Linked DNA regions of Homo sapiens. The protein of the gene in region 4 interacts with the protein of the main gene of each other region in a pairwise test. Each region holds a gene or a part of one and is shown on either strand. Other genes may lie near its edges.

Evidence for each region.
Region 1: the proteins of ZC2HC1C (region 4) and FGFR1OP2 interact in binary tests that used the Homo sapiens proteins (3 or more experiments, as listed by UniProt).
Region 2: the proteins of ZC2HC1C (region 4) and GOLGA1 interact in binary tests that used the Homo sapiens proteins (3 or more experiments, as listed by UniProt).
Region 3: the proteins of ZC2HC1C (region 4) and EMILIN1 interact in binary tests that used the Homo sapiens proteins (3 or more experiments, as listed by UniProt).

The regions. Positions count from the first base shown.
Region 1 is NC_000012.12:26,933,749-26,941,489, reverse strand, and holds the start of FGFR1OP2 (FGFR1 oncogene partner 2), read right to left. Parts: upstream 3,021-7,741; 5' UTR 2,780-3,020; intron 1-2,779. Other genes in the region: INTS13 (integrator complex subunit 13), read left to right, coding at 4,687-4,911, 6,860-6,934. UniProt on the Homo sapiens protein: May be involved in wound healing pathway.
Region 2 is NC_000009.12:124,938,076-124,945,783, forward strand, and holds the start of GOLGA1 (golgin subfamily A member 1), read right to left. Parts: upstream 3,009-7,708; 5' UTR 2,896-3,008; exon of another isoform or gene 2,765-2,895; intron 2,731-2,764; exon of another isoform or gene 2,291-2,730; intron 2,081-2,290; 5' UTR 2,031-2,080; intron 792-2,030; 5' UTR 637-791; coding exon 502-636; intron 1-501. UniProt on the Homo sapiens protein: Involved in vesicular trafficking at the Golgi apparatus level. Involved in endosome-to-Golgi trafficking. Mechanistically, captures transport vesicles arriving from endosomes via the protein TBC1D23.
Region 3 is NC_000002.12:27,073,699-27,081,634, reverse strand, and holds the start of EMILIN1 (EMILIN-1 precursor), read right to left. Parts: upstream 3,021-7,936; 5' UTR 2,570-3,020; coding exon 2,400-2,569; intron 1,485-2,399; coding exon 1,365-1,484; intron 904-1,364; coding exon 683-903; intron 1-682. UniProt on the Homo sapiens protein: Involved in elastic and collagen fibers formation. It is required for EFEMP2 deposition into the extracellular matrix, and collagen network assembly and cross-linking via protein-lysine 6-oxidase/LOX activity.
Region 4 is NC_000014.9:75,072,621-75,079,640, reverse strand, and holds part of ZC2HC1C (zinc finger C2HC domain-containing protein 1C), read right to left. Parts: intron 2,110-7,020; coding exon 2,077-2,109; 3' UTR 1-2,076.

The DNA.
Region 1 (7,741 bases), on a different chromosome or scaffold from region 4:
CAAAGCATAATTTTTTTTAGCATTTCAGAAACACAGTGACAACAGTTTCTAAGAATTTGCATGTTCATTTCCTGTACGTGAAACCACACACACAAAAGTTTAAAATATTTTATAATATGCATTTACTTTATCACCTTTTTTGAAGACCATTGTGCTTCCCCTCTTTTTTGGCCAGGAAGTGGAGTGGGAGGAAGAAGACTGTTTTCCAAACTCTCTAACAAGTTTCAAATTTTAAAAAACAGACTACAGTAAAAAAGGAATATTCTAAACTTTTCGGCCTATTTTTATAGTGCCTACCTTAACTGGCCATAATACACTTACTTACATTATTTTCTATAGGCGGGTCCAAATTACAGGTGAATCTCTTTTTTTTTTTAGCAAGTTAAAAAATTTTTTTTTCTTTTCTGCATTAGTCACATTCTCGCCCACTTTACCACCCAAAGACTTTTGCAGTCAGACTCCTGGCAGAAGGCTTAGAACATTCTGCTGCTGATAAAAGAGAAACCACCACCCACCCAAGACAGCAACTGCCAGCTGTTTACTTTTAGATTTTGGTTAAGAAAAATTTAAGGAAATTCAAGTCAAAATTTTCAAGCCAACCTCAGAAAATAAATAGGAATATAAATGAAATGTAAGAGAAATTAAAGACGAAAAAAATTTCAAATATTTTCTAGGTAATTAATAAAAGCCTAGCAACCATTTTAATTAGGCATCACATTAATTGTAAGATCAATGAATGTTTACTGATTGGACACTTCTGTTTCCCTTATCTGCAAATCCACTACTCCTACCACTACATCTACACAGAAATATTGTGGCTACTGATACACCACAGATCTGTCTTTAAATGTCAACAATCTAGTTTAAATTTTTTCATGTTCAGGTATGTGTCTCTAATATTAATTAGTACATAATATGAACTGACCCATATGGAAATAAAAAAACCAAAAGGTATAGTTATGGTTTTCATATAAACTTATAATCTTATGAATGCAAGAAAGAACGCATATAAATTACATATAAAAATAAGCATTTATAAAGGCACATCGCTGTATGTGAAAGCAAAGAAAATTTTCACTGTCCTTGAAAATAGTGGAATGAATACATGTTTGGAACTGTATAAAGACACTTTCTGAAGAAAATTAATTTTTAAACTTGGAAGAAAGATTTTGGAAGTAATGACACTGGAGGATTTTTTTAAAATTACACGTTCCCTTAGAATTGTGGCTGAATATAAGTTTCACATACATATGTTCAAAGAGTTGTGACAGTTCAAGAAGGAACTAACCTAATCTAAACCAGTTATTTCTAACCTACAGGCTAAGGAGTCAGTAGAAGAGTTGCCTGAATGCACATACTCCAAGCACTGTCTGTAGTCTAAAACATTTCTGCTCCATTTCTCAAATATAAATAGATACTGTAAAAATAAAATACAAAATCATTTAAAAGCATAGTAGTTTTCTGTCATTATACATAATTTCAACCAACAATTACTAAAAGTCCAATTGCATGTGTATTAGAAGTACAGGGTTTCTCATAATCAAAATAGGTCGGGACCTTTAAGCTAATGTACAGAGTTCCTTCTGGCCCAAAATTCTATGATTTTAAAGGATGAAGAACTCTTACGGTGAATTCCTTAGAACTATTCCATTTCAATAAACATACATATGTATATATAAATAATGCTTGCTATGTGCCAAGTACTGGACTTTTTCTCAGAGATGAGTAAGACATGATTCCAGACAGACCCAGGTTCAAATTGGCAGGAGAGACAGAAACAAATAATACAACCTAATAAATACTGCAGAAGAAAAGTTTCAAATGCGTTGGGAGCACAGCGGTATCAATGTCACCTGGGGGAGTCTGAGAAGACAATGATTTATGAATTGGGTTTTGACAGGTGGTAAAATAGAGGAACAGTAAACATCCTAGACATCCGCACGTACAAAAGTACAGAGCTGTCAAAGCGCATGGCATGTTTGGGGAAATAGCCAGTATAGTCTTGTATGGTAGGATATTAAAGCAGGACTAAAAGGTAAAATGGATTGGGGCAGACTGTAAAAGATCCTGAATGATGATGTGCTTAACAATTAGGATTTGATGCTGTCAGCAATACGGTTACTAAAAAGTTTAAGGAAAGGACAGAGATAAATATGTATTTCAGAATAACTCTATGGAAGGATTATAGTAGGGAAACCAGTGGAGGGCGGGGGGCAGAGGGGGCAACCGCACTAATTCTGGCGAAAAAAAAAATAATACAGTGCAGTGTTAAGTGGAAATGAAGAACCAATGATGATTCCTGGTTTTCTAGTTCGGATAGCAGGACAGATACTGGAACCATTATCAGAGATGGGATAGAGAAGAAAGGCAGGAAGAGAACCAGAAAAGAGTAATACCCCTTGGAGAGCAGTTTCAAGAAACAAGTTATCTTCATTAAACGCTGCAAACAGGTGACTGAAAGGGTCCCCCGTCCGGTGGTGAACTCGCAGGTGGGTAAGGCAGGATGAAAGCAGATACGGAAGGTGTGTCCACAGGGTTAGAGCCAAGGCTTTTCATTGAACTTTCCGCACCGCATCTCCATTAAGAGGAGCTCGGAGTCGGGGGGCGCGGAGAGGAAGTCCGGCTCCCAGGAGCAGGGAGCCCGCGGCGGGAAGCGGACAGGGCCGGGCGCCGGTGGTTCAAGAGGCGCAAGGCACCGGCCCCGGCGAAGGACTGCCCCGGCAAAGGACGCCTCCGACTCGCCCACCCCTGCTCCCGTCCCTGGATTTAGTCCACTTACTCTGCTCTTAGTCCCTCGCAGCCTTCAGCTGTGGCGATGCGGACTCAAACCCTCTACCAACCGGGACCTATGCACTCAAGGGAAGAGACTCCGCGCCCCCCTAATCCGCCTCCTCAGCAAGCAGACGCAGAATCGGACGGAGGCAGCGGACGGAAGGCCGGGAAGCCAGTGGCGTTCAACGCCATCACCGGCGGGGTAGACACCTCCGCCGACCGCCTCCGACCGGCGCTCCCGGAGAACTCCAGCCTCGCGAGATTTCTTTCCTCGCGTTACTGTGGGGCAGAACCGACCACTCTCCGCTTTGCCCCAGAAGGCAGGGCGGGGCCCTTCTATGTCCCTCCCTATTCCTCCCTTCCCAGGCTTTCGCTCGGCCTCTCGCAAAGTCTCGCGAGTTTTTCCAGGGGAAACCGGCCTGGGTGGAGAGACAGAGAAGGGGAGACCGGGTGGGTGGGTCGTACGCTTAGGGGGCCGTGGTTGGTACTTCGCTGTTGGGGAGGCTTTCAGGTCGCCCAGATCCTGCTTCCCAATGGGTGACTGGGAAAATTAGCGGGTGGAAAATCTCGAGGGGTGGAGGCTTTTTTTTTCCTCCTTGGCCCCGCCCTCTTCCTGTTCGGCGACTGGGACGCCTGGCCCTACGAGGGGGAAGGGAGGCTTGGCCGGGCTATCGGAGAGCGCTGTGCGCACGCGCGAGCCCGAGTGCGTGTGTGTGTGTGCACGCGCACGCGCGCTCCTGCTCTTAGGAAGCCTGGGAAGGACCGGTGTGCTAGGAGATGATCGGGGAAAGCATAGTCCCCTGTCTGTGGCACCAGACACTCCCGACTGTGCGCTGACTCTCCCCGCCCAGCCAGCAGCCTTTTCCAGAGAGGCTGTGGTCCATAGCCTCTGTTCGTTTTCACTGCAGGACCAGGCACGAAAGTAAGCGAACCTCGATCCTGAGGTCTTCCCTATCCACTCACCTTGTATTTTCCACCCCCCACCCTCCAGCAAAGTGGGTCTAGAAGGTTTCTCAAAGAGAGTTTTGCATGAAGGGGAGATGCGTCTTGAAAGCAAGAGGTGAAAATAGCTGGATCGTAAGAAATCAGTTCGTTTTGATTTAACACTTTGGCTTTGCTTGCCATGTGCTTTTCGAATGTGGATTGTCTATTCAGTATAAGATTTTGTTAGCGAAGCAGGGGAGTACCGTATGCTCTGTTTTAATAAGAAAAAGTTTTAAAAGTTTTAAATTTCCTTCTACACACCAGTGTGATGGTAACAACTAAGTTTTTCTGCTCTACCTGGTAAATTACTGTGATGTTTCAAAAGCTAAGGGGAGAGTGTGAAGTTGGGGTCCTTATCCTAAGGCGAAGACCTGATGTGCGGTTATCTTAGGAGATGTTTATCTTTGTTTTGGCCTTTTCTTTTGCTGTCACTCCTCTTTCCTGTTAATTCCGCACCCCTACCCGCCAGTCCCCCTTCAAACGTTTTTCTTGGAGGGAAGTGCAAAAATGCTGGCTTGGGGTTTATATGTGACTAATGTCAATTAGCAAGGATCATAAAGTTGTATTTCAAGAGTCTTTGTCACTTATGTTTCGTATATGTAAGGGAATCAAATACAATTAAATGTCAAAATGTTTCCCTCTGACAATTTTAAGTTCATTTTAAAAGCAAAACCAAAAATGCATGCACTGGTATTTTTGTCTGGGCCTGGTAGAGTGACAGCCTAATATGGTGTATTGATACCCTTGCTTTCTGGTCATGACCTCATTAAACTGTCCTTTGTCGGACAGATTTCTTTGAACATATTATTCATGTTCCCTACCAAGTCTTCTTGAGGGAAAGACAATCTTCTTGAGAAAATTAGAAAAAATGTAAGATGTTATGTACAAATATTTGGCTAATATGTTTTTCCCCTTACAGGTTAAAACAAAATGAAGATTTTTTCTGAATCTCATAAAACAGTGTTTGTTGTGGATCACTGCCCTTATATGGCAGAATCTTGCAGGCAGCATGTCGAGTTTGATATGCTGGTGAAGAATAGAACCCAAGGAATCATTCCTTTGGCCCCCATATCTAAATCATTGTGGACTTGCTCAGTAGAATCTTCCATGGAATATTGTAGAATAATGTATGATATATTTCCTTTCAAAAAGCTGGTGAGTGTGAAGTACAAACAAAATCATGATTTTGGGGATGTACTTAACTGCATAAATGAATTTTTATATGAATTTGCTATAGATAATGACTGTGTGTTTATTACTTAAAAATGTGGTACATAACGCTGCCCTTTGGGATTAATATATAATGGATATTTAATTGGGGCCAGTAATAATAACAGCTAACAATTATTGAGCACTTTACATGTGCCAGACATATTTCAAAGTGCTTCATATTTATTAATTTCCGTAATTCTCATAACAGTCATGTTAGGTAGGAACTGTAGTTATTGAAGCAATATTCAAAGTATGTAACAACCAGTATAGAACACAGACTGACCATTGAGAGCTGCTGTCAAACTGTGCTGGCATGTAGCAGCTGACTGTCAGTCTTGTTTGTTGCTTCCCTGTTGCAGATCCGGAAACTGAGGTAAAGAGAAGAAACTTGTCCTGAGTCACATAGTTACGTAGAGGCAGAGCCAGAATTTGAACCTAAGCTGGCTAGCTGCTTGCAATTTTAGCAAATATATACTAAACTGCTGTATTGTTTGGCCATATTAGAAAGAAATACTTTTAAGAATGCTAAGTGGATATGGTTTATCAGTAAGAAGAGAAATGGATGATTGACAGAAATTACAGGTATTAAAGTTTAATCTTAGATTTCAGTATCTTAAATGTCTTATTTTGGGAAAGTCATTTGTTTAGCCACAAGTGGAAGACTTGCTTTCTGTCTTACTCGAAGCGCTGGGACCTAGCCAATTCTTAGACTGAGGAAGGTAGGGCAGTAGAGTAAAGGTGAACATAGTCTGATATTATACATTCACATATATTCCAAATTAAAATATAAGCCCTTCTTAAAATTTGTGTGCATTCTGTGTGTGATAAAAATATATAATGAGAGGGAATGTAACTGATTTGGAGCGCAGGCTTCGGTTCAGACCTTGGCGTGGTTAACTACTAGCTGTGTGACTTTGATCATATTTCTTAATCTCTCCAAGCCTCAGTTTCCTCCCGTGTAAGTATAACACTTACTTCCTCGATGTAAGCTTTAAAAGAGATAAATCTACGTAAAGTGACTTGTAAAATATATCCCTGTCAGATAAGCCTTGGAAGAGAAGACCAATTATCAAACTTCTTGGGGGAGGAAGGAAAACTGGTATTTCATCGATATATAGGGAAAAAGATCATAGATTAGATCGTGTTGTCCAGAGTAAAGAAAGAAATCTAACCCTCTAGCCAAAAAGGAACATGGGTCAGAATCATCATTTGATAAGTTTTCCAAAATGTTCTTTGTCATTATCTTACCTGATAGCAGGTAATTTTAAATTTTCAAATTTGCATTTTACTTTAAAACTTAGCGTAAAGACCATATCCATTATTTTGGCTTTCGGTGCCCTATATGATCCAGCTCCTGCCTCTTTCTCTGAGTTTGTCTCCTCTCCCACTGCCTGCTCTGACTTTCACCCTTTCCAGGGTATATGCTTAGATGCCTTTGCATTTGTTATTTGCCGTACCCAGATTGTCTATCCCTGACTTTACGGTGGCTGGTTTTGGATTGCCTTCAGTTGCCACTTCTATGGAGAGTCCTTCTGTAACCACCTAATCTAAAGTAGCTAATTAACTTATTTTTCATAGCGTTTATCACTCTCTGAAATTATCTTGTTCATTTATTTGTTTGTATTCTTCCCGCAGTGCCTTCTGTCCTAGTAGACTCCCCTCCCCTGACTTTCCCCACATTGTGAGTGACAGAACTTTTTTATTCATCACTCTATTCCCATGTACTCAGTGCCAGCAATAGCACCTGGCATATACTACACATTCTGTAACTATAAAAAGAAGAATGAATGAATCAGTGAAACAGTGTTACAAATTGCATATTACTTGAAAATATGTTGGTGATTGAGTGAAATTAGAGTTGAATACTAATTGTTTCTTTGGAATCTATTAGGTGAATTTTATTGTGAGTGACTCTGGAGCACATGTTTTAAATTCTTGGACTCAAGAAGACCAAAATTTACAGGAGGTATGGTTAGATTTTGAGCTGTGGCCATTTGTAAATTATCTAAATGTGGTAATACTTTTTAAAAAAATGACTAATTTTTTAAATCACTCTAGGATTTGCATATAGTGTTAAAATGCCAAGTCATATGAAAACAGCTATCCCCATTCTAGGCTTTCCCTACACCCAGCACCCCCAAGCAAACTTCCATTTTTTAGTAGTTGTCATATTTACTTCCAGATTTCTAAATAACATGTTTTTATTCCTGTTTATTGAGTTCTCTGTTTATTTATCTACTTATTTATTTATTTTGAGACGGAGTCTTGCTGTCACCCAGACTGGGGTGCATTGCGCCATCTCGGCTCACTGCAACCTCTCCCAGGTTCAATAGATTCACCTGCCTAAGCCTCCCGAGTAGCTGAGACTACAGGTGTGTGCCACCATGCCTGGCTAATTTTTGTATTTTTTAGTAGAAATAGGGTTTAGCCATGTTGGCCAGGCTGGTCTTGAACTTCTGACCTTCATATGTCTAATGCCTGTCCCCTTCCCTTGTGTTCTCAATATTAATATGTCAGAATTGTTGGTTATTTCAAAGTTTCATGTTGGCATTATAACATCTACGTAAAGTATTATTCACTGTTAAGCCAAGTAATATATATGGTTAGTTCCTTATATAGCTTTTTGTTTATTCCTGGAATTATTTATTATCTCCTTTTTCTCCCCTTCATGTGTTTTGTTTTCATAATATCCATTGCTGCTTTTTCTCATGCTTCTACAAAACTGCCCAATATTTTGATCATAAATGTGTTAGATAATTCAGCAGTTTGATTT
Region 2 (7,708 bases), on a different chromosome or scaffold from region 4:
CCATCTCAAAAAAAAAAAAAAAAGAAAGAAAAAAGAAAAAAAGCAACATACTGTAATCACTGGGGCCATCTTTCCAACAATCGTCCCAATACAACAATGCACTCTTGCTAACCCCATACCACAACTCAGAGACCTTGTTAAGCAGCAATGACTTAGTTGTTATATAAGTATATATGTCTGCAATGAAAACAGGCCCAGACATTTTCAGAAATGAAATGCAAAAGAAGATGTATAAGGTATATAGACGGAAAAACAGTACAAGAGGACACTGGAGAGAATATGGAGAGGAACTCACAGAAAAATAAGGAAAAAAATATAGAGTACCTTAACATTTACAAACCAAACATTAACAAAAAGGTACCTCAGAGTAAGAAGAATCAGATGTACAGGCTCTTGTACAGCTATAAACCATGAAAGGTATGAAATAATCAAGCAATTTAAAATATTTATTGGAAGAATACCCTGCAAAAGTATCTTTATTTCTTAAGTAAAGGTACTTACAAAGTCATCTCCTGAGTCAGCTCCCATTGAGGCAACTGATTCCTTGCTCACAGACCGTGGGATCCTAGTAGCACCTCCTGGCCTCTGAGCAACAGCAGTCTCTTCTGCAATTTTCTTCTTCAGTTTTGCAAACATGTTTGCTGTGTGGCTATCCTGCACAGATGACGAGCTCTCAGTAGTCCTGGTGCCTGTGTTCAGGATTCAGACAGAGGCGCCTACAAAGTTTCAGACATCCAAGCTAGCTGCATTCCCACTTAAATGTGGGCCAAGGGCTTATGGCAACACAGGATCTACAAATCAGATGAAAGAGACAGTTCAAAAGTTAAACATTGGAAAGATTTCGCATCTGAGTTGTTAAGTTTTAGATTTCAAAACTAAGTTTCATAACTTACATGTACACTTATAGAACACAATTACTAAACATTTAAAAAGCACTCAGGTGCTTCATATGCATATACAGATGAAGAAACCCAGTCTCAAGAAGATGAAGTAACCTACCAAAGATTGTGTGGCTAAGTGGAAGGGCTGGTATTTGAACAGAGGACTCTGATTCACAAATCTCTACGTTTTTTTTTTTTAATTACATGTTGGCTATGACATATAACACACTTGGTAAAATGTCCCAGAGCAGACATCAACATCATATATTCATGACTTAATGATTTCAAATCCTTCCTCCAATAAGCTTAACTACAGTTTAGTGTTCTTTAAGTTGAAGACAAAAATGCATGTAATTCAATTCATATGTAATTCAATATTCAATATGTAATTCAATATGTAAAAGGTGTAATATCCTACTGTTTCAGGATGGTTTGCAATCAACTGTCCAATAGGAAAAGCTGGTAACAGAAAAAAGAAGACACACCAGACAACTCTATTATATAAGTATCTGATATCCTTGAACATTTTCTAGAGACGCTGTGTGGTTTTGAGTTTGATAAAATTACCTCCAATGAGTTTATTTTCTTTCTTTCTTTTTTTTTTTTTTTTTTTTTTTTTTTTTGAGATGGAGTTTCGCTCTTGTTGCCTAAGCTGGAATGCAATGGCACTATCTCGGCTCACCGCAACCTCCACCTCCTGGGTTCAAGCGATTCTCCTGCCTCAGCCTCCCGAGTAGCTGGGATTACAGGAATGCGCCACTATGCCCGGCTTATTTTATATTTTTAGTAGAGACGAGGTTTCTCCGTGTTGGTCAGGCTGGTCTCAAACTCTTGACCTCAGATGATCCACCTGCATTGGCCTCCCAAAGTGCTGGGATTACAGGCATAAGCCACTGCGCCCGGCCTCACAGTTTCTTTTCTTAAGAATGTTTGACATGATATTCAAAGTAAGATTCAAAAACCTTTTCCTCCTAATGGTGTATAAAACACTAATATTCTGGTTCCAACCTTAACTTTCCATGTTTTGTGGAGGATACCTAAGCTCTGCTCTGAGATACACAAATGCCATCTTACCACTTCAGATCCTCCATTAAGGCTGTACAATTCTTCAGAAACTTTACTTTCAATGTGTGTAAACCACTTACTCACCTGGCTTATCTACTAGATTTAAAACAGCTTGGAGGTCAAAGCATTCTGTCCTGCATGAAGACAAAGATAAAATGCATTGGGTATTTCTTTTCAAGTGTATGGCCAAAATGTTGGGTGGGGATAGGGGGAAGAAGTGAAGGAAGAGGAGGGGCAGAAGAAGGATTAAAGGGGGTAAGAAAACCTGTCACAACTCTCAATGGGATACCCTCCCTAACCCTGATCTCCTATGAAATTGTTTTTTGCCTAAGAGCTTCACTTACAAGCGCATAGAACAGAATTGATCACCGCAGCGGGTGCCTAAATTCACTTCTCCCTGGGAGCCCTGAGCAAAACAATTTGAATGAGGTTAAGTTTTCCTGGAGCCAGTATTTATTTCTCAGTTGATTACTACACTCACATACTGTTTACCCGGCCAGACCCTGGGCGTCTGGTCACGGATGTGCACTGACAAAAAGCAAGGCAAAATTGGGTAAAGACAGATGTCTAACCCCCAGGGAGGCAGGCAGGTGCCTGCCACGGCAGTTTGGATCTCACTCCCTCAGGCTACCTCCAGCCCCGCCCGTGCTTTGGACTGTCAAAGAAAGGAAGGATCCAACATCTCTCCCATTTGACAGCAAGGAAACTGAGCCCTAGAGAGGAGGAGCGACTTGTCCAAGGTCGCGCAGGGAGGAATCCCGGAACCCTAGGCTCCAGACTCCCAGGCCGGGGCAGCCCGCCTCCGCCCCCACTCTCACCCTTTCAGCACCCCGGTGCCGCCCCCCGCCTTGGGGCTCGGGCAACCCTGACCGGGCCGCTGTGGGGACAGACCGAGGCCACTGGGAGAATAAGGGGCCTGCTCGCATTCCCGGAGTCCTGGCCCGCGCACCTGCCTCTCTCTGGGAAGCCAGCAAAGCCCCGCCTCCCGGGCCTCTCGTGAGCCCCGGCCCGCGTCACCAACCCCCACCGCCCAGCCGGCGAGCCGAGCAGCGACCCGGAACCGCACGTCTCCCAGCGCGCCGGAAGTGACTGCGCGGTGGGGGGAGGGGGTTGGTCCGACGCGCGCATGCGCCCGTGCGCGGCCTTGGCGGCTACTGTTACCACCTCTGAGCGGCGACTGGGCCGGAACGGCTGGAGTTCTCGGGTGCCCAGCCGGGCGCTCCCTCAGCCCAGTTCGCCACGTCAGCGAGCGGCCAGAGCCACAGATGATGACTGAGTCTCCGAGGCCTCTCGGTCTTTTTCTATTTTAACAGGGGCGCGTGCAGAGCGTGGTAAGTGGGAGGGGCTTCGTGTCAAAAGTAAAAGAACCCAGTCGGTGCCACAGGCCCCGCTGTGCTGTGCTGGCTACAAACCCGGCCGGGGCTGCACTGCTTGGCCAGGCGCCCCCCCGCGCCGCCCGGTCCCGCCGCACCCTAGGCAGCTGCCTTGCCACCGTGTGACCCGGGAAGTCTGCGCCTCCAGCTTCACTCACAAGCCAGTAGCTCCAGAAACTAGTCCTGGGACCTTACACCTTGAGACCAGTTTTTAGACTTTGGCGCCTGTCACCTACTGTAGATGATGCGTTTTATATCGCAACCGAGTACATAACGTCCAGCAGAACCACGTTCTTACTATGTAATGCACTTAAAAACGCTGGTGGCAGCTCACTATATTGGATTAGCTTCACCATCCGCTGCTGGGCCGTCTCCTTTCTGCTTAGGAAGGAAGTTGAAAACATCAAAAGTGCACGGCGCGCGCTTCTGTGGTCCCAGCTACTCGGAAGACCGAGGTGGGAGGATCTCTTGAGACCAGGGCTTCCAGACCAGCCTGGGCACCGTGGCGAGACTCCGTCTCTTTAAATAAATAGCAATCATGCAGGCAGTAGGAAAATAAACAAAAGAGGAAAAACTATCTTGTTCCAAGTCACAGTCCAGGCCGGGCGCGGTGGCTCACTCCTGTAATCCCCACACTTTGAGAAGCCGAGGCGGGTGGTTCACCCGAGGTCAGGAGTTCAGACCAGCCTAACATAGCGAAACCTCGTCTCTACTAAAAATACAAAATTAGCCGGGCATGGTGGCCCATGCCTGTAATCCCAATTACTTGGGAGGCTGAGGCAGGATAATCGCTTGAACCCGGGAGGTGTAGGTTGCAGTGAGTCAAGATCGCGCCATTGCACTCCAGCCTGGGCAACAAGAGCGAAACTCTATCTCAAACAAAAAGTCACGGTCCAAATCAGTACCCTAAGTCAGGTCCCTGAACTCGTCAATGCCAAGCCAGCCATTCCACCTTAAGGAACTCTGGTTCCATCCCCAGACTCAACACAAGCCCAAGAATAAGCAGATTCCACCCAATTCTTCAACAGTCCCTTCCCTCGCGTGTTCCAGTTCTGACCTGCAGGAGCAGGGCAGGGAAAAAACCAAAACCAGGATTCAAACATTGACAAACTAACAAGAAGCATCAACCCCAAGATAGTTCAAAGCCTCTGAGATATTTGAATGAAGCAAACCCTAACAGTTCAGCTGTCAATACCGAAAAAGTACCAAAAACTTTAAGCAAATAATGTTTATTTTTATATTGATGATACACTTAATATATATGTGGATTCAAGGTACAAAATTCATGTACAAGAGTTCACACCTGATGAATGTAGACACATTCCTAGAGAACATTTATCAATGTGAAAATTTCTTTAATACACTGACAACAAAAATCAAATATTCTCTAATCTCGTTATTCAATAAACATCAAAACAACGTTTCAGTTTTCATCCTCTAGTACTGAAGTGCCCTCAAGGTGGTAGGCACTGTATAGCAGGAGAAAACATTGGAAAGCCTACTGAATCCGCTCTGCAGAATCACAGTGTTTACTCTGAAATTCATTTAGTGAAGTAGTGGAAGGCTATCTTTTATGACAAATCACATCTCATACAAGAGTCAAAAGTGATGAACTCAAGAAAATAAAATGTTTCAAGAACTTCTCAATTTCTAAAATCTATGGAGTATTAACCATAACAGACAAAGAAGAAAAAGGCTGCTGGAAAGGAAGAAAAAAACATCCTGTTTAAGAGAACGTATGGCTTAAGCAATTTAGAACACAACTGACAAGACTTTTACAATACCACAAATGTTCAAGTCAAATGATAGTGACAGTATAATTTTCCCCTTAGTCATTGGTAGTAAATAGCCCCTTCAAAATTTATTCTACTGTTAACACATATAAAAACTATGAATCCAAACAGTTTTGCTAACGGGGCTGAGTTGATGGATTTTTTTCTAAAGTATTAACTCACAATATCCAAATATTAATACAAATGAACGACAAGATTGTTTCAAAGATTACAGTGATTTGTGAATAGCTAAATAGGCAACCAAATAGCTTCATTATTTGCACGACAGATTAGCAGCACTTGGATAAGAATTGTTACATGAAAAATATTGTGCTTCAGTCTCTTGAGGAGAGCTAATATAACTCTATAATCCCTATAGTGTTAAAATTCTATAACATTTCAGTTACAGACAAGCACAATTGTTAAAAAGTATTTCACACCACTAGAAAATCGAGTAATTATATCCTCCAAATGAATTACTTCTATGATTTAAACAAGTGCATTTCTGCCTAATAATCAGAATGTAGACAATAAGTTCAGCATTATTTTCAAGGGAAAAAGATCAAACATAACTTATTTTAACTCCTATTTGATTATCTTAACCTTTAGTGATGATTAGAACTTAAAAAAGGGAAACTCAACCTTCCAATGGAAACTGCTCAGAGGAAATAATAAAGTGTCCTGAAATTACAATAATTCTTAGCACAAAGTAAAAAGTGATTTATAACTGCTTCATCTGATTCAATGATTAATGAAATCACTATTTATACTGGTGCTACACAACGAAGATAACCTATATGGATAAGTTATTTTACTTGTAAACTCTACTATGAAAATGTTAGGACTTTGTATTTGCCTTTCCTATTATCTAAGATGTTTCTACCTCAACTGGAAGAATCATCCAAAATCTAAAGGTTTCTCTGATTGTTGAACAGCAAGGTTTATTAAAAATAAGCAAAAAAGTTGGAGAACTAGCCATATGGTCTATGTGGCAAAAGGAATGCATTCAGATAACTATAAAAAGCCACATAAATCAAGTTCTAGATTATTGTACTGAACCATTAGAAGGTCTTTTTAATGATACAGTAACAAGTTAACAAAAACCATTCTTCAGGAAATAGTAATAAAAATTCCTTTTTTTTTTTTTTTTGAGAATGAGTCTTGCTCTGTCACCCAGACTGGAGTGCAATGGCACGATCTCGGCTCACTGCAACCTCCGCCTCCCAGGTTACAAGCAGTTCTCCTGCCTCAGCCTCCCAAGTAGCTGGGATTACAGGCGCACACCACCATGCCTGGCTAATTTTTTTTTTTTTTTTTTTTTTTTTGTATTTTAGTAGCGACAGGGTTTCACTGTATTGCCCAGACTGGTCTCCAACTCCTGAGTAATAAAAATTCTTATTGTGCTAAAACACTAAGCAATTTTTCCTGCAGATTTTTAATTTACCACAGTACATAGTTTTAATTTAGAAAAAAAGCAATTAGTAGCATGCTTCTTTAAGGGTGGAAATAAGCTTTTTAAAAATACAGTGGTTATCCCTCTATGGTTTGGAAGTATTTACTTTTGGGATTCTCATGTATGATCATTTCAAATTTTATACTTATTCATACTGATTTCATGTTTGAGAAAATTTATGGTTCAAATTGTAATGTTTACAAATCTCAACTTTTAATCATGGCAAAGTGGACATTCACAACAGCTTCAGAAGAGAAAAGAAAATCAGTGATATAACAAACATTTAAGTATCATTTACGGCAGCCCTATAAGAAGGCTAGCCATAATTCCCTATTTCATTCTGAAAGTGATATCCTATTAGCTTTCATTCCATAAGCCTAGGAGAAAAGTATAAAACCTAAAATTACCTATGTCTTAAACAATATTACACCTAAAAAGATGATTGTCGTAGTAGACAGACTGGAATTGTCCACCAAAATAGGAAATTGATACCCAATTTATAGTCTATGATGAAATTTAGGCTTGAATAAGTGAGTTTGTAGTTTTAATATAATGTACTTCAAACTATTAAAAAAACTGAGTCTATTGTCCAAGTATGTTTAAACATGGCACTGGTTAAAGTAGTCTGATAACTATTAAAAAGAATTTTTTTTAGGCCGGCCACAGTGGCTCACACCTGTAATCCCAGCACTTTGGGAGGCCGAGGCGGGTGGATCACTTGAGGTCAGGAGTTCGAGACCAACCTGGCCAACATGGTGAAACCCCATCTCTACTAAAAATACAAAATTAGCTGGTCGTGGTGGCACACGCCTGTAATCCCAGCTACTTGGGAGGCTGAGGCAGGAGAATCTCTTGAACCCAGGAGGCGGAGGTTGCAGTGAGCTGAGATCGCGCCATTGCATTCCAGCCTGGGCAACGAGCAAAACTCCATCTCAAAAAAAAAAAAATTATTAATTTTTAAAACCACAAAAGAAATTAACAAAAATATTTTAAAATTAAGAATGGTGCTTCAATCAGTTATTAAATTAGTTATACTTAATACAGTTCTCTTTATCCAATTAAAGGCATATCACCCTACATCATCCTGACACCCTTCCCGTCAATAGGTGATTGATTCCATTCACACATCAATTATTTTTCCTTAAACACAAGGCATGCTTAAGT
Region 3 (7,936 bases), on a different chromosome or scaffold from region 4:
GGGCGAAATGGGAGTGTAGGGAGGCACTCTGGATGCCACAACAGTAGCTACCACTGGGTGACACTTCCCTGCAACACCACGGGGACAAAGAAGAGGCTCTGTGGACGGTGAGAGTTGGCCAGGAGTTCCTGTTTGCATAATTATAGTAAGGCTATCTCGGGGCAGGGAAACAGCACATCCGGTGTGCAGCACGCAGGAGGGAAGGCAAGCCACAGGAACTGCTGCATGCTGGGACCTGCGGTCTCCAGAGGCCACGGAGGGGTCTGGGATCTGTAGTCAGGTGCAATGCATGCTAGGATTTGTAGTCTCAACTGTCTGTCCCCACGGACCAAGCTTCTCAAAGGAATGCCCCTTTCTCCTGCAGCTGTTTGAAGGATCTTGGCCACATGGGGCGTGTGCGAGCACCTTCTCTTTTTTGGCCTTCTTTTTCTCAGTCTCTCCATCTTTTGCGTGCTCTCTCCCTCTCTCTCACACAGACACACAAATACACACACACACACACACACACACACACACACACACACACGGGCAGGGAATCTCTGCGATCTCACTAACCCTTCTGCCCCTCTCTTCTCTCTGGCATAGAGCACGGGGGACTCCCCCAGCAGCCTGGCCCCACATTTCCCATTGCATTGGATCACCATTTGGAACTTGCCACCCTCGCAGCAGCTCCCACACTCACCTTCTCCCCCCAGTCCACTGAGGGGGCTGCCTGCACTGGAGCCAGAGAGGTTGGGGCGGGCAGGCCGGGCCAGGGGCCGTGGTGTGGAAGACGCAGGCCCCAGCGCTGGAGCGGGACTCTCAGCACAGTCATCGCCCCCATAACCCTGACAGCACCTCCACTCCATGTCGGTCACTGTCTTGTAGGCCACACGGTAGCGAGGGCGGAGGAAGCGGCGGTACCTGGCAGAGGCAGAAGGAGGCCTCTTTATTCCTCCCTGTACGGTCAGTGACCCTGGTCCCTGTCCTCAGGGGTGGGCAGCTGCTGGTGGGCATGGCCTGTCCCTCAGGCTGGGTCCCTCTTACTGTCCAACATGTGGCCTTGCTTAGCTGACAGCTGTCAGCTTTTTGGCCAAGGGTTAAATCCCTGCTCTTCCTTCCCTTGCCCTGTGCTGGAACCTTGAACTCCTCTGCTTGAGCCTGAGCCATCCCAGAGAAGGCATCTGGGGCTGGCGCGTGAGGCAGGTTTGCCCTCAGTCTCCCACCAGCCAAACTGTTGTCTCAGTATCTCCTCAAAATGGCTGTGACCCTAGCCCCTGTCCTGCCCTTGCTCCCTGCTTCATACAGACTCCCTGAGTCAGCCACCCACCATCTGCCCTCGCCCAGTTCCCACCAAGGGCCCGTTGCCCGGCCCTGGGACTCACATGATGCTTTGGGGACACTGGGGCTGGCCCCAGGCACAAGGCTGGTACTTGACATATGTCTCCACTCCATCCTCAAGGACACAGCTCACTGTCCGGGTCACCACGTAGGCACACCAGTTCCTGTAGGTACAACCCCCTCTGGGTCCAAGGACCAAAGATACATGCCCTGGAGGAGGGCCCAGGGGCTACCAGAGGGGCTGAAGAAGGCTCCAAAGATGCAGAACCCTTGGGGATCAGTGAGAGCAAGGGCTTTGGCATCGCCACCCTCCCTATCCCCCACGCTTTCCTGTGTAGCAGGAGCAGATAAAGACTTTTCAAGATGGGGAGACGCGCAGAATGGAAAACCACAGAGCAGTCAATCCTCATGGTGGTGGGGTCCCGGGGAGCCTCTGAATGTACACAATCATGTGTGTCCCTTTCTGGGCCTGTCTCAGTCCCCAGATTGGCATGCTGTGTGCGCATAGCCAGCCCGGGCCCTGTGGGTGATCTGAACACTGGCTTCCACCCCACCCCTCCAGGAGAAGACGGGCAGGCCAGCTTGGGGTTAAGTAGAGAATAAGCCATTGATGAGCCTGCCCCTCTTGGGGATTGCAGTTCTATACTCCTGGCCCCATTCACTCCGGCCTCTGATCTGTGTCTGGCTGGAGGGCTGGAGGGAACAGAGCTGGAGTGGTGTCAGAATTATGGATTACTGGATGGGGTCAAGGGAGCCCTAGAAGGGGACAAAAGTTCTCCCTGAGGCTCTGGGGCTAGGATACAGAGGGCAGCTGGCAGGAAGGCCTGGCCCGCTCCCCTCAGGGCAGCTTCCCTGGGGCATGTGGGAGCGGACCCCCTAGGTGACCCAAGGAACATATGTGTTCAGGGGGTCCTGGAAAAGGCCCCGTGGGAAGGTGGGCATGTGAGGAGCCACCTGATGGATGGGCTTCTCACTCCCCCTCTGCCCTGCATTAGCGGACACAGCAGAGAGCCAGGCAGAGGTGGCATTCTGACCCCTTCCTCACCACCCAAGCCTCGGGCTGGGATCCAGACTCTTACCTGTGGCGGCTGGCTGGCCGGGGGGCAATCTGGGCCTGGGGCCCCCCGGGGCTGAGGGCCCCACTGGAACCTGTGTAGAGGCTGAAACCTCGAGGAGGGTAGCTGGCGGCCCCTGCAGCTGCCGTCAGCAGGCAGCAGAGGTAGCAGCTCCAGAGGGTGCGGGGGGCCATGGCGGGGCGCTCCACAGTGGCCCTCAGAGACTCATCCCGCCCAGCCACTGGCGCCTCTGCCGGCCCCGGGGATGCTGCTGCTCCACAGGACAGCCCGAGCCCGGCCCGTCCGTCCCAGTTTCCTTCTGATAGCCCCCGGCCACACGTCTTCTCCTTGGCTGCCTGGCCTGACCCCTCTCCCCTCCTCTTTCCTCCTCAGCTCCTGTCCGTCCCCTCTCGGTTCCTTCCGCTCTCCTCTTCACTTCTGAGGGGGTTTGTTCTCTGTGCCCCCTCTGGCCTCCCGCGCCTGGTCCCTGCCCCTCTCAGGAGCTGCGTCTCAGAAGTTGCCTCCTGGGCGTCCGCCCCCTCGTCCCAGCTGGCCCTCTTCTGGTCTCCCTGTCCTCTTTCCCTGATGACCGGATCCTGGGGGTGACAGGGCTTTGCCCCTGTGGCTGTTCGGAGGCGCGAGAGTGGCTGTGGGGCGGGCCCTGGCCTCCTCCTCCCTGCTGGCTCCCCTCCCTTCCCCCCTGTCTGGCTGGCGGTCCGGCCTCCCCCTTCCTCCCCCCACCTCTCCAACCATCGTGCGCCACATCTGCTTCTTGTTAACTCCGGGAAAGAGGGAAAAAAAAGGAAAAACAGAAATGTGGAGTTGCCGCCGGGCTTGAGGCCAGCCTCTCAGATGGGCCACATGGAGCCAGGGCCGAAGCTGGGAAGGAGGCCCAGGGCTGGTCACTCCGACTGGGAACAGGAGCCAGGGCCGCAGCTCCCCTGGGGCTGGAGCAGGCCTCCCCTGGGGGAGAGGGCCCCAGAGAGGGAGCCCAGAGGGGAGGGTGGGAGGGAAGGACTGACTGGACAAGGGAGAATGAACTCGGAGGGCTCAGCAGGACTTCACTCACCGTCTAGTCTAGCAGTCTCCTTTTAGAGATGTGAAAATTGAGGTCAGAGTGGGAGAGTGACTTGTCCAAGGTAACACAGCAAGTCAATGGTGAGGCTGAGAACACACACTAAATACTAGGTCAGTGACTTGGGAGAAAGGAGGAGAGGAGAATGTGCTGCTGGGCCAGGGAGGAAAAGGTCAAGGACTCCACTGAGGCAGATGGGAAATCCACAGATGACAGAAGAGGAAGAAAGGGCCTTGTGTGGTGGCTCACGCCTGTAATCCCAGCTCTTTGGGAGGCTGAGGTGGGCAGATCACAAGGTCAGGAGTTCGAGACCAGCCTGACCAACATGGTGAAACCCCATCTCTACTAAAAATACAAAAATTAGCCAGGCATGTTGGCACACGCCTGTAATCCCAGCTACTCAGGAGGCTGAGGCAGGATAATCGCTTGAACCCGGGAGGAGGAGGTTGCAGTGAGCCAAGATCACACCACTGCACTCCAGCCTGGGCGGCAGAGCGAGACTCTGTCTCAAAAAAAAAAAAGAAGAAGAGGAGGAGGAAGAAAAGCACCTGGCAATGGGGAGCAGGCTTCTGTCAAGCGGTAGAGGGCACGTGGGCAGGAAGAGAAAGAACCTTTCTTAAAGGGATAAATGAAAATGGGTCCTGGGCTTGTTTTGGTGATGGTCAGGCCATAACTGGATGAGGGTGGGGGTGAGGTAAATCGGGACCTATCTTTAGAGCACCAAAGGAAGTCAGTCCCTGGCCTGGAGGCAAGTCTGATAGCTCTCAGTGACAGGCAAAGAGCCGTCAGCCTGACCTGAAAGTTCCACCTGCGCCACCTTGATCTAAAAGCTTGGTCCCCGTCACCATCTGACCCGCAGCTCTTGACCAGGGTCTCCAGCTGGTGGGATGCTTGGGAGAAAGAAACAGAAGCACTAGACAGAAAGGAGACAGGAGAATGCTGTGTGCCAGGCACTGCGGAGGTGCCCAGGTAGCAAAGGCATAGGTAAGACCCAGACGCTGTCCACTAAGGAGCAACTGAGGTTGTTGGAGAATGGGACACAAGCCCCCAAACAGAGAACCGTCACAAGCCAGGACAGAAAAAGTGCCAAGGGGCAGGACAGAGGGATGATGTGTGTTCCAGCTAGGAGGAGGGAAAAGACAGCTGGCTGCTGGAGACAGTCAGAGGAGAGGCTGGAAAAGACAAAAGCTGAACAGCATTGGGGTGGGGGCGGGGGTGGGGGGCAGGAGTCAAGAACAGAGACAAGGCAAGGAGAGAGATTTCAGGCTCAGGAAGAGCGGTCTGCCTCAGTCTCCTCAGCTGTAACACAGGAATAACAGGACTCTCCATCCCACTTTGTGAGGATTAAGTAAGTCAGTGCATGTAAAGCATTCTAGAACAGTGTCTGGCAAATGGTAAATGCTCAATCAATGTTAGCTCTTTTTTTTGTGTCAGGAAAAAATGGGACCGAAATTCAGAGAGGTAGATTGTGGACAAATTAGGGAGAGGCTCAAATGACTGGTTATGAGGTTGTATTGCAAGTTTTTGAGTAGAAGCATATACACATACACGAAAGAAGGTATTGTGGGTGAGAGCGCTGAATACGGTGTCAGAACACAGGCAATGTAGCCCCAGCTCCTCCTGTCACTATGACCCAGCAAATCCCATGACACCACTGGGAGTCTATGTGTCATCTAAAGTCCCTTCCAAATTCTACATTGCAAAGTGATGCAGACTTGGGCTCTGGTGGTGACAGTGACCATGGATAGGCAGGGAACTTTGTGACTGCCTGAGTAATGAGGCTTGGTGACTGCCTGAGTAATGAGGGACCAGATGAAGGGAGACACGAGGGAAGATTCCAGCATTTGAGCCAGGATGGGGAAGTCGGGAAGAGAGCAGGTTTGGAGGAAAGAAAAGTGATCGTAGTTTGAAGATACTGAATTTAAGATGAGAGTAACACATCCTAGTGGAAACCAGTGTCTAGGATTGTTAGCAATGGTGGGCCACTGATTCTTCCAACATGTGCAGGGCAATAGGTGGAAGCCATGAGAATGAATGCCATCAAATCATCAATGTAACTCTGAACCATCTTGCCTCTGATGTCCTATGACCCAGAATGTGACCTTGATGGCTAAGAGAAATGTTTGTGAAAAGACAGGGTCAGGCGGGGTGTGGTGCCTCACGCCTGTAATCCTAGCACTTTGGGTGGCTGAGGTGGGAAGAGCACTTGAGGTCAGGAGTTTGAGACCAGCCCGGCCAAATGGTGAAACCCCATCTCTACTAAAAATACAAAAATTAGGCCAGGCACGATGGCTCATGCCTGTAATCCCAGCACTTTGGGAGGCCGTGGTGGGTGGATCCCATAAGGTCAAGAGTTCGAGACCATCCTGGCCAACATGGCGAAAGCCTGTCTCTACTAAAAATACAAGAATTAGCCAGTGTGGTGGTGTGTGCCTGTAATCCCAGCTACTCAGGAGGCTGAGGCACGAAAATCACTTGAGCCCAGGAGGCGGAGGCTGCAGTGAGCCAAGATCACGCCACTGCACTCTAGCCTGTGCAACAGAGTGAGACTGATTCAGAAAAAAAAAAGGGGGGTGGTGGTTGGTGAAAGTAAATGCTGGAACAAACAGAAATGGAAATTTGTAGTTGCCCCTTAGAGCCCTGGGGATCAGCACACAGGGAGATTTGAAGGAAATGTTCACAGGAGATCCCGATTTCAAAGAAGTTTTCGGTGGAAGGTTGCAGCTTTGTCCCTGGTCTCTAGGCTCTGGCTCTGGCCCTGGCAGGAAGCCAACCCACTTCCCCTCCAGATTGCCCCAGCTGCTGCTATGGGTTTTCTCTCTCTGCTCTTCTCCCTCTCTTCACCCTTAGGAAGCCTCTGGCAACCTGAAAAGTCACCCCAGCCATCTTGTCACTGCCCAATTGTTACCCATTCCCTCTCCTACCCTCTGAAATTCAAAAATCTATTGTATAATTTAAGTGTATCCAGTGAAAAATGTTGGCTTTGAAATATAGTTGCAGTAGGTTGCATTTCATTTGCCTTTATGTAATTAGGAGACGAGACCTAGGAGCTGTCATGAATGTTTGTGAAATCACAAACATATCAGTGGCTCTGAGTTCACCAGGGAGGATGCTTCCCCTTGCTGGCTTGAGTGGGCAAGCAGGGTGCAATGGAGCCTAAAGTTAGAGTGCAGTGGTAGTGGTGATGGTGGCAGTGACATGCTGGTGGTGGTACTGGCAGGCAGCCATAAATTTCCAAAGCAATTGGTAAGAGTTCCTGACCCCCCAGAAAGCTAAGTTGCTGGTGGCACTAGGACATGATCTATTTTACAACCTCTCCAAGGTGGGTAATTTCCAAGCATCTAGTGCCAATTGGCCCTACATGGCAATGAACTCATTCATTCAGCTTCACTGACTGAGCAAGAGTTCATGACCAGGGTCAGGACAGCCGTGGGCACCAGCAATAAGGAGCATTTTATGTCTAGCCTCTCTGTCAGAGGACTGAATATTGGGAGGGAAAAAGGGGGAATAATATGATTTGGGGCCTGGCACAGTGGCTCACGCCTGTAATCCCAGCACTTTTGGAGGCCGAGGCAGGCGGATCACTTGAGGTCAGGAGTTGGAGACCAGCCTGGCCAGCATGGTGAAATCCTGTTTCTACTAAAAATACAAAAATTACCCGGGTGTGGTGGCACACTCCTGTAATCCCAGCTACCCAGGAGGCTGAGGCAGGAGAATCACTTGAACCTGAGAGGCAGAGGTTACAATGAGCTGAGATCGCATCACTGCACTCCAGACTGGGTGATAGAGTGAGACTCATCTCAAAAAAAAAAAAAAAAAAGTGATTTGGGCCTTGGGTCATGCCAATCCACATGGGACTTCAAGTTTGTGGGGAGTCTTGAGCAAAAGCCCACTTTTCTCCAAAGAGATGCACTTTACTTTTCCTTTCAGCTCTTCCTCCAGGTTTAATACTTTAGTAGCCGACCTCCCTGAACCCAGTTCCCCTTCTCCCAGGTCTTGTTGCTTTCTCACTCCTGAGCCTAATCCTGGCCTCATGTCCTTTCCTTGAAAATGTCACACTAATCACAGAGATTGAGCTCCACAAGTGCCCCCCAGTCATTTCCCTCCACATCCTCCCAAATCCCCCCAGGATGAGGCTGTGCCTGTCTCACTTCCCACGTAGTTTTTTTATCCAAGCTTGGTTCGAGATTTGTCAGTTCTTAGTTAAGTCTAGTTCAGTCTCATAGACTGTTTTTTGTTTCAGTTCTTCCAGGCACTGGGCCAAATGACCCATCCAAAGCTGATAAAGACCCACTGACCTAGGCACAGGAAGTTCTGTGAGGTGAATGAATTTCTGGGTGGTCCTAAAATAAATCCTTTCCTTCTTGTGCCTAACCCTAGGACAACCTACTGAGTCCACAGTTTGACCTGGAACATGGAGTGGAGGTAGGAGGAAGAGGTGACACTGCTCTTTCACCAGTTTCTAGAAACTTGGTGAAATTTTACC
Region 4 (7,020 bases):
AGATCATATTATGAATGCTAGGCCAGCGAAATAAAACATCTGTGGAGCAAAGCAATCCACATGTTGCCATTTTGTGACCTTGGCCACAGCTTACTCTTGCCATCTATTGCAATGTACTGGTTTACATTCCCACTTAAAGTGTACATTTCATTGAACTTGCCTAGGGAATGTACCTATTAGGTTAAATATCCATTATCTCTGTGTGAGGTTTCCTTAAGGGGCTAACCATAAAGCTTTATTATGTGATACCTCCTTTCCTTTGGAACAATTAAAAAGAGTGCAAAGAAATGTGTGCTCCTATTTAAATATATAGGATTTTTTCCCAGCCTGTGTCCTGCAGCTTCACCGCTAAAGCCTTAACTCACATTTCAAATTGGTCTGATCTGTTAGCCCAATTTTTTTTTCTTTTTTTTTTTTTTTTTTTTGAGATGGAGTCTCACTAGGTCACCAGGCTGGAGTGCAGTGGAAATGGAGCAAGAGTGAGTGGCCATTTGTTACTTAGTAAAATAGGATTTTGTTGTCTGTCTAGCCCTGTTGACTAGCTCAAATTGAGCAGTTTTTCTCCAGTATTTTAAACTAACAATTTGAGTAATACAGAACAGTAATCCTAAGATTTCTATCTGTTGTGCTAACTTCACTCCTATCTGAACTGATAATACTCTCGCAGACATTAACTTATCAGTTCTCTGATTTCACTAGTGTAGGACTCACTCATCTTCTTGTTTAATTTTAAATCTCCAGACCTCACTAATTGAAGGTCTAACTTGTGCTAGGCAATATTCTACACAGAGAAAATTAAAAAGATTTGATCCCTTTCCCTTCAAAGTTTACTCTCTGAAATAGAAGTTGACTATGCTATAATTGCCAAGGGCATGTGACACTGTGCAGTGTCCCAGCTTTGTTTTGTTTTGAGATGGGGTCTTGCTTTGTTGTCGAGGCCGCTCTTGAACTCCTGGCCTCAAGCAATCCTCCCACTTCAGCCTCCCAAAGTGCTGGAATTATAGGAATGAGCCACCATGACCAGCCTGTCTCAGCTTGCTTTGATGGTAGATTTTGCTGCCTCTAAACAGTCATTTAGCCAAACCGATTTGAAAGTAGAGTGCTACTAACAGCTAAAATGGAGGTTTCTTTCTTAACATATGAAACCCATTAGAAAAGAACAAGTAGAGAGAAGTATAATGTGTTTCCCCCCCAACACCCATCCCTACCCTGTAAAGTACATAAAGATCTTTCCTTTATTACACAGTACACCATAGGGAAGGTTTAGGAGACATTGGTGCCTTAACCTTACATACTTGTATTGGGTTTTGGCCAGGCTTATGCACCAGGGAGACCAAGGATAGATTTCCATTAATAATGCCTTATAGCAAAATTGTATTATCTTTTATAAGAGTTACTATCTGGGTGATCATGCCCCTCTGACACCAACACATCCTAATAACTCCAGCTTCTACAAAAGCAAGAGTTAACAGGAACTCTGAACATACATGCAGTGACAAGAAGGCAGAACCAGATGCAGGCACTTAACTAGCACAAACCACAAGTCAGGCATGCAAGAAAAGAGCTTTAATGGAGCCTGCTCATGACTCTTCAGTGTCTTCACCCATCAATTCTGAGGGCAATAACATAAAGCATACCAGCCCAAGGTTGTAATTTAGTGGGAAGCTGGGGCTTCCTTCTGCCTCCTGCTGCTTAGCAGTGGCTCTCTCCTCACAGATTTTAGCTCTGCAGGCAGATCTGGGAGCTGTTTGATTTCTTTCTGCTTTGCATCAAATTCTACTCCCATTTACTGCTGAAGAGAAGCAGAGCTTTCTGAACTATCCAAAAGTTTCCATTGTTGTCTGCTCAACTATAATGCTTCCTTAGAGGTGGAAGACAGTTCTTGATGGTCTTACACTTGGGAATGTGTTGCTCAGCCACCTTGGGAGCAAAGTGGTGGCTACACTGAGGACACTGAATGCAGTCTGGGTTTTCTGCAGGCAGGATGGGAGGCAAGTGTGAACAGTTTCCACCTTTGGCAGTTACCTGCTGGACCTCTCGAGCCTGGCGGAACGTATGGATAAAAGATTCATGCTTCTATCTCCAGTTGCTCTTCTGAGGAGGTTCAGCCTGTAATGTAAAAGGGAGACTGATCATTCAAGTTGGCACCTATCTCCTTCCTGAGTCTCTTGTAGAATAACAGTAAGAAAATGAAAAGGGTACTAATCTGCAAGGTCAAAGAGAACAGGAAAGGAGCAACAGCGGTAACTGACTTGCCAGCGTTGAGGCAAACCAAGGGCCTGCAAAGGAGGTACTGCTGAGAGGCAAGCCACTTTCCCAACAGAACCTGAGAGGTTCAGTGCTTGGAAGTACCCGATAGTGGAAAGTAAGGAGGTACAGGACTGAAAACAAGTAGGACCCCACGGCTCCTCCCACCTTATGCATCCAAGTGTTCAACACCCAAGCACACTCACAGAAGAGCAAGGATTTATTCTCTGGAGAAATTGAACCACACAGATTTCTGACTCAGGAAATCTAGACACGTGGAACTGGGTTAATCTTGGGGCTGAAAATGGGGATTAAGTACAAGTGTACATACCAAATTATCGAACTGTCAGCCTCCTTCCCCCACTCAGCCCCCAGAGTACCAAGCATATTGGCATCCTCATAGGAAAAAGAGGGGTACTCTGGATACACAGAACAGTCCAGAGAAAAGCCTTCAGATACTGACCTTGGGAAACGCTAATTAAAAGACTCACTATCTGGGAACCTTAATATGAAGATCCTTAGTCAATGAGCCCCACTTAAGCTTAAATATGAAAGGACAGCCAGGAATCATCAGATATTTGCTAAAAGCTCTAACAAGAAAAAGAGCCAAAAAGTCCACAAACAAAAACTTAGGAGGCAGCAACAAGGCAGGTGGCAGAAGAAAACTTTTTTTTAACATGAGACCATATCAACAAAATGAGTATTAGAAGAGATTGTGTCCATAAAACAAGAAGAGTATACTGTGAAAAAAAGACAACCAGAGAACCAGAAAGAACTATTGTAAATTAAAACTTTGATAGCTAAAAATAAAAATTATTTAAATAGAGGCCAGGTGTGATGGCTCACGCCTGTAATCCCAGCACTTTGGGAGGCCAACGTGGGGAGATCACAAGGTCAGGAAATCAAGACCATCCTGGCTAAGACGGTGAAATCCCATCTCTACTAAAAATACACAAAATTAGCTGGGCGTGGTGGCACACGCCTGTAGTCCCAGCTATTCAGGAGGCTGAGGCAGGAGAATTGCTTGAACCTAGGAGGCAGAGGTTGCAGTGAGCCAAGATCATGCCACTGCACTCCAGCCTGGGCGACAGAGCAAGACCCTGTCTCAAAAAATAAATAAATAAATAAATAGAAATGTTGTAAACTAATGTCAAGAAAATTTCTCAGAATGGGAAAAAAGATCAAGATGGAAAGTAAAAAGAAAAGATTAGAAAATTAGAAAGTTAATCCTGGAAGTCCAACATGTGACCAATAAGAGTTGCAGAAGGAACAGAGAAAGCACGAGGAGAAAATTATTGTTGTTTTGTTTTGTTTTGTTTTTGTTGTTGTTGTTATTTGAGATGGAGTCTTGCTTTGTCACCCAGGCTGGAGTGCAGTGGCGCAATCTTGGTTGACTGCAACGTCAGCCTCCTAGATTCAAGCGATTCTCCTATCTCAGCCTCCCAAGTAGCTGAGACTACAGGCGTGCGCCACCACGCCCGGCTAATTTTTGTATTTTTAGTAGAGATGGGGTTTCACCATATTGGTCAGGCTGGTCTTGAACACATGAGATCAGGTGATCCACCTGCCTCAGCCTCCCAAAGTACTGGGATTATAGGCGTGAGCCACAGCACCTGGTGAGGAGAAAATTATTAAGGAAATAATACAATTAACATTCCTAGAATTAAAGGTCACACATTTTGAGATTGAAATGGCTTACCAAGTATCTAGCACAATTATTGTAAAGTTTCAGAATTTCAAAATAAATAGAGAATCCCGTAGCCTTTTAAAAAAAAAGGTTTCTTGTAATGGAACAGGAATCAAAATGGCATTAGATTTCACAACAATACACTGGATGCTAAAAGCTAGTGGGAAATACTTTAAAAGTTCTAACAGATAATCATTTTCCTCCTAGAATTCTGTACCTAGCCAAATCATCAAATGGGAGCCTGTCATATAGATAGTGTCATTCATTCCAAGACAATATACCTGCTATGCACCCTTCTTAGTAAGCTTCAGCAAAGGAAGGAGTAATGCAAGAAAAAGGAAGACACAGGATGCTGGAAACAGAGGACCCAACAAAGAAGAGAAGCAAAGAGAAGTTCCAAGAGAATGAGTTTGCACCAGGCCTAGAGAATACCCAGTCCAGGTTGGAGCAGAAGGGATCAGAGTGGCTGAAGGGAGGTTTTCAGAATTAAAAAATCAAACTGATAGATTATGAGAGGTGTTTGAGCATTACAAAAACGTTAACAGATGTCTGATATCAGATGGATCGTTGCGGGGGAGAAAAAGACAGGTATGTAGAAAATGAAGGAAATGAAAACATACGTCCATTATTAATTTTAGGTACATGTGGGCAGAGACAGAATTTGTTCACTCATTAATGAACAAAATTTACTTGATCATTACAATGTGAAAGCTAACTACTTTTAACCAAAAATTGTGATTCGACTACAGTGGAAGGATAAGAGAAAGAGAACAGTAGGAGAGAGGGAATATGAAAGAGAACTTCACTCCCAGCTTCCATAAGAAGTTACCAGGTAGAACAGGCACCGTGGCTCACGCCTGTAATCCCAGCACTCTGGGAGGCCGAGGTGGGCAGATGACTTGAGGTTAGGAGTTCAGGACCAACTTGGCCAACTTGGTGAAACCCTGTCTTAACTAAAAATACAAAAATTAGCCGGGCGTGGTGGCACTCGCCTGTAAGCCCAGCTACTCAGGAGGCTGAGGCACAATAATTGCTTGAACACGGGAGGTGAAGGTTGCAGTAAGCCAAGATCAAGCCACTGCACTCCAGCCTGGGCGACAGAGACTCCGTCTCAAAAAAAACAAAACAAAACAAAAAAAAACAGGTAATGTAGAAAATTGATAAATCAAGAAAATAAGCATATTATTTGGAAATATGGAAAGGCAGACCAGAAGAACCATCTAACAGAACTGAAGGCTGCCTCCGGGGGCTGAATTAGGGGTTCCATTATAGGTCATTCAGTACTACATGTTTTTTAAATGCATGCAAACACTATTAAATTTTTTAAAGAGAAAAAAGACAACTAGCTCTTGGTGATCTGGCATTGTTAATGATGAATAATAGGAAGAGATACTATCAAAGGAAAAGAAAGGATCCTTCCAGAAAGTCTCTTGCCAAAACAGACAAGAAGGCAAGAGAGTATTAGCGATGGTATCCAGGAACCTTTAAAAGAATTCGAAGACCAGGCACGGTGGCTCATGCATGTAATCCCAACATTTTGGGAGGCTGAGGCGTGTGGATCACAAGGTCAGGAGTTCAAGACCAGCCTGGGCAAGATGGTGAAACCCCGTCTCTACTAAACATACAAAAATTAGCTGGGTGTGGTGGCGGGCACCTGTAATCCCAGCTACTCAGGAGACTGAGGCAGAGAATTGCTTGAACCCGGTAGGTGGAGGCTGCAGTGAGCCAAGATCGCTGCAGTGAGCCGAGATCGCGTCACTGCACTCCAGCCTGGGCAACAGGGCGAGACTCGGTCTCAAAAAAAGAATTTGATCAGGGGAAAGTTCCTCTCAAAGAATTTGATCAGGGGAAAGTTCCTCAAGTATATGAGATCCTTTAGTAATTTACTTCTTATACTCTAATTCCTATAATTTTATTCCTCATTGTACTGAAATTCTATTCAGTTAACACTTATTAAGCACAAAGCACAAAATATGTTCCCTGTCCTCAAAAATGCTTACAGTCCAGGAGAGAGACAGGGTGTACGTCTGCTGGGAGTTACGTGAAGATTAAAGGATACCAGGAAAATCACCTGTTCTTGAGTACTCTAGAGGAATGACAGGAAGGTACAACCACTCAGCTTCCAAAGGCACAGCACTGTGGAATAAGATTTGAGACATTACCAGGGTGGTGCAGGTGCATCTTAGTCTAGGTCCCTTCTGTCTTGGTGTCCTCAATGTCACACATTCCCACAAACTAGTTGCCATAAAGCTGGAGCATCTGATCTCAGGAACCTAATTATTTTGCTTCACCGTAACTGTATTTACGAATTTAAGAAACACAAGATTCTTTTAGGCTCTGGCCAAAAATAAATCGCTACAGTGGGACATAGAGTGAATTCCCAGTGGATTACTGGGTTGAACTGAAAGAAAACAGGAAAAAACAGTAAGTGGTGATCATATTATTATCTGCAAGAGCAAAATGCTGATTTCTTCTTTGGAAACTAGATTTCAGGGAGATGATCTCTGAACATGGATGGGACTTCCTTGTGATTTCTCCAAACTACTAAAAGAAAGAACTCTAATTGTAAACAATTTCTTCTAACAACCATCATATAAATGTGAGTTTTTAAAGGCTCCAGCAAATACACAGAAACTGTAAAGTGCCAATGGACAAGAGGTGCCAGCACAGCGGAGGGAGGGTTGGGAAGAAATGAAAACAGAATGACACTCTCTTATTCTTCTGGAATATTAGAACTAGATGGGGCCTCTGAGATCATATGATCTACGCTTTCCCAAACTTCAATCATCTGCACTTTCACTTCATCCTTACAACTAATTAATATTTTTCTGTAAATTCATGATCCCTGGAAATCAGGGGCTTAATATATTGTTATATTTTCCTAATATAACACTAAACGACGAATCAATTTTTCTAATACAACACTAAACACTAAAACTACTAAAATAAAGTTTGTCAGCATGCCACACCTTGAGAAATAACCATTTTATAAACCAAGTGGCACAACCTTGACATGTCATTCATTTATGAGACAATCTTCTCCAGATATGTCCAAATGTGCCTATGAAGTTCACCTAAATTTATCA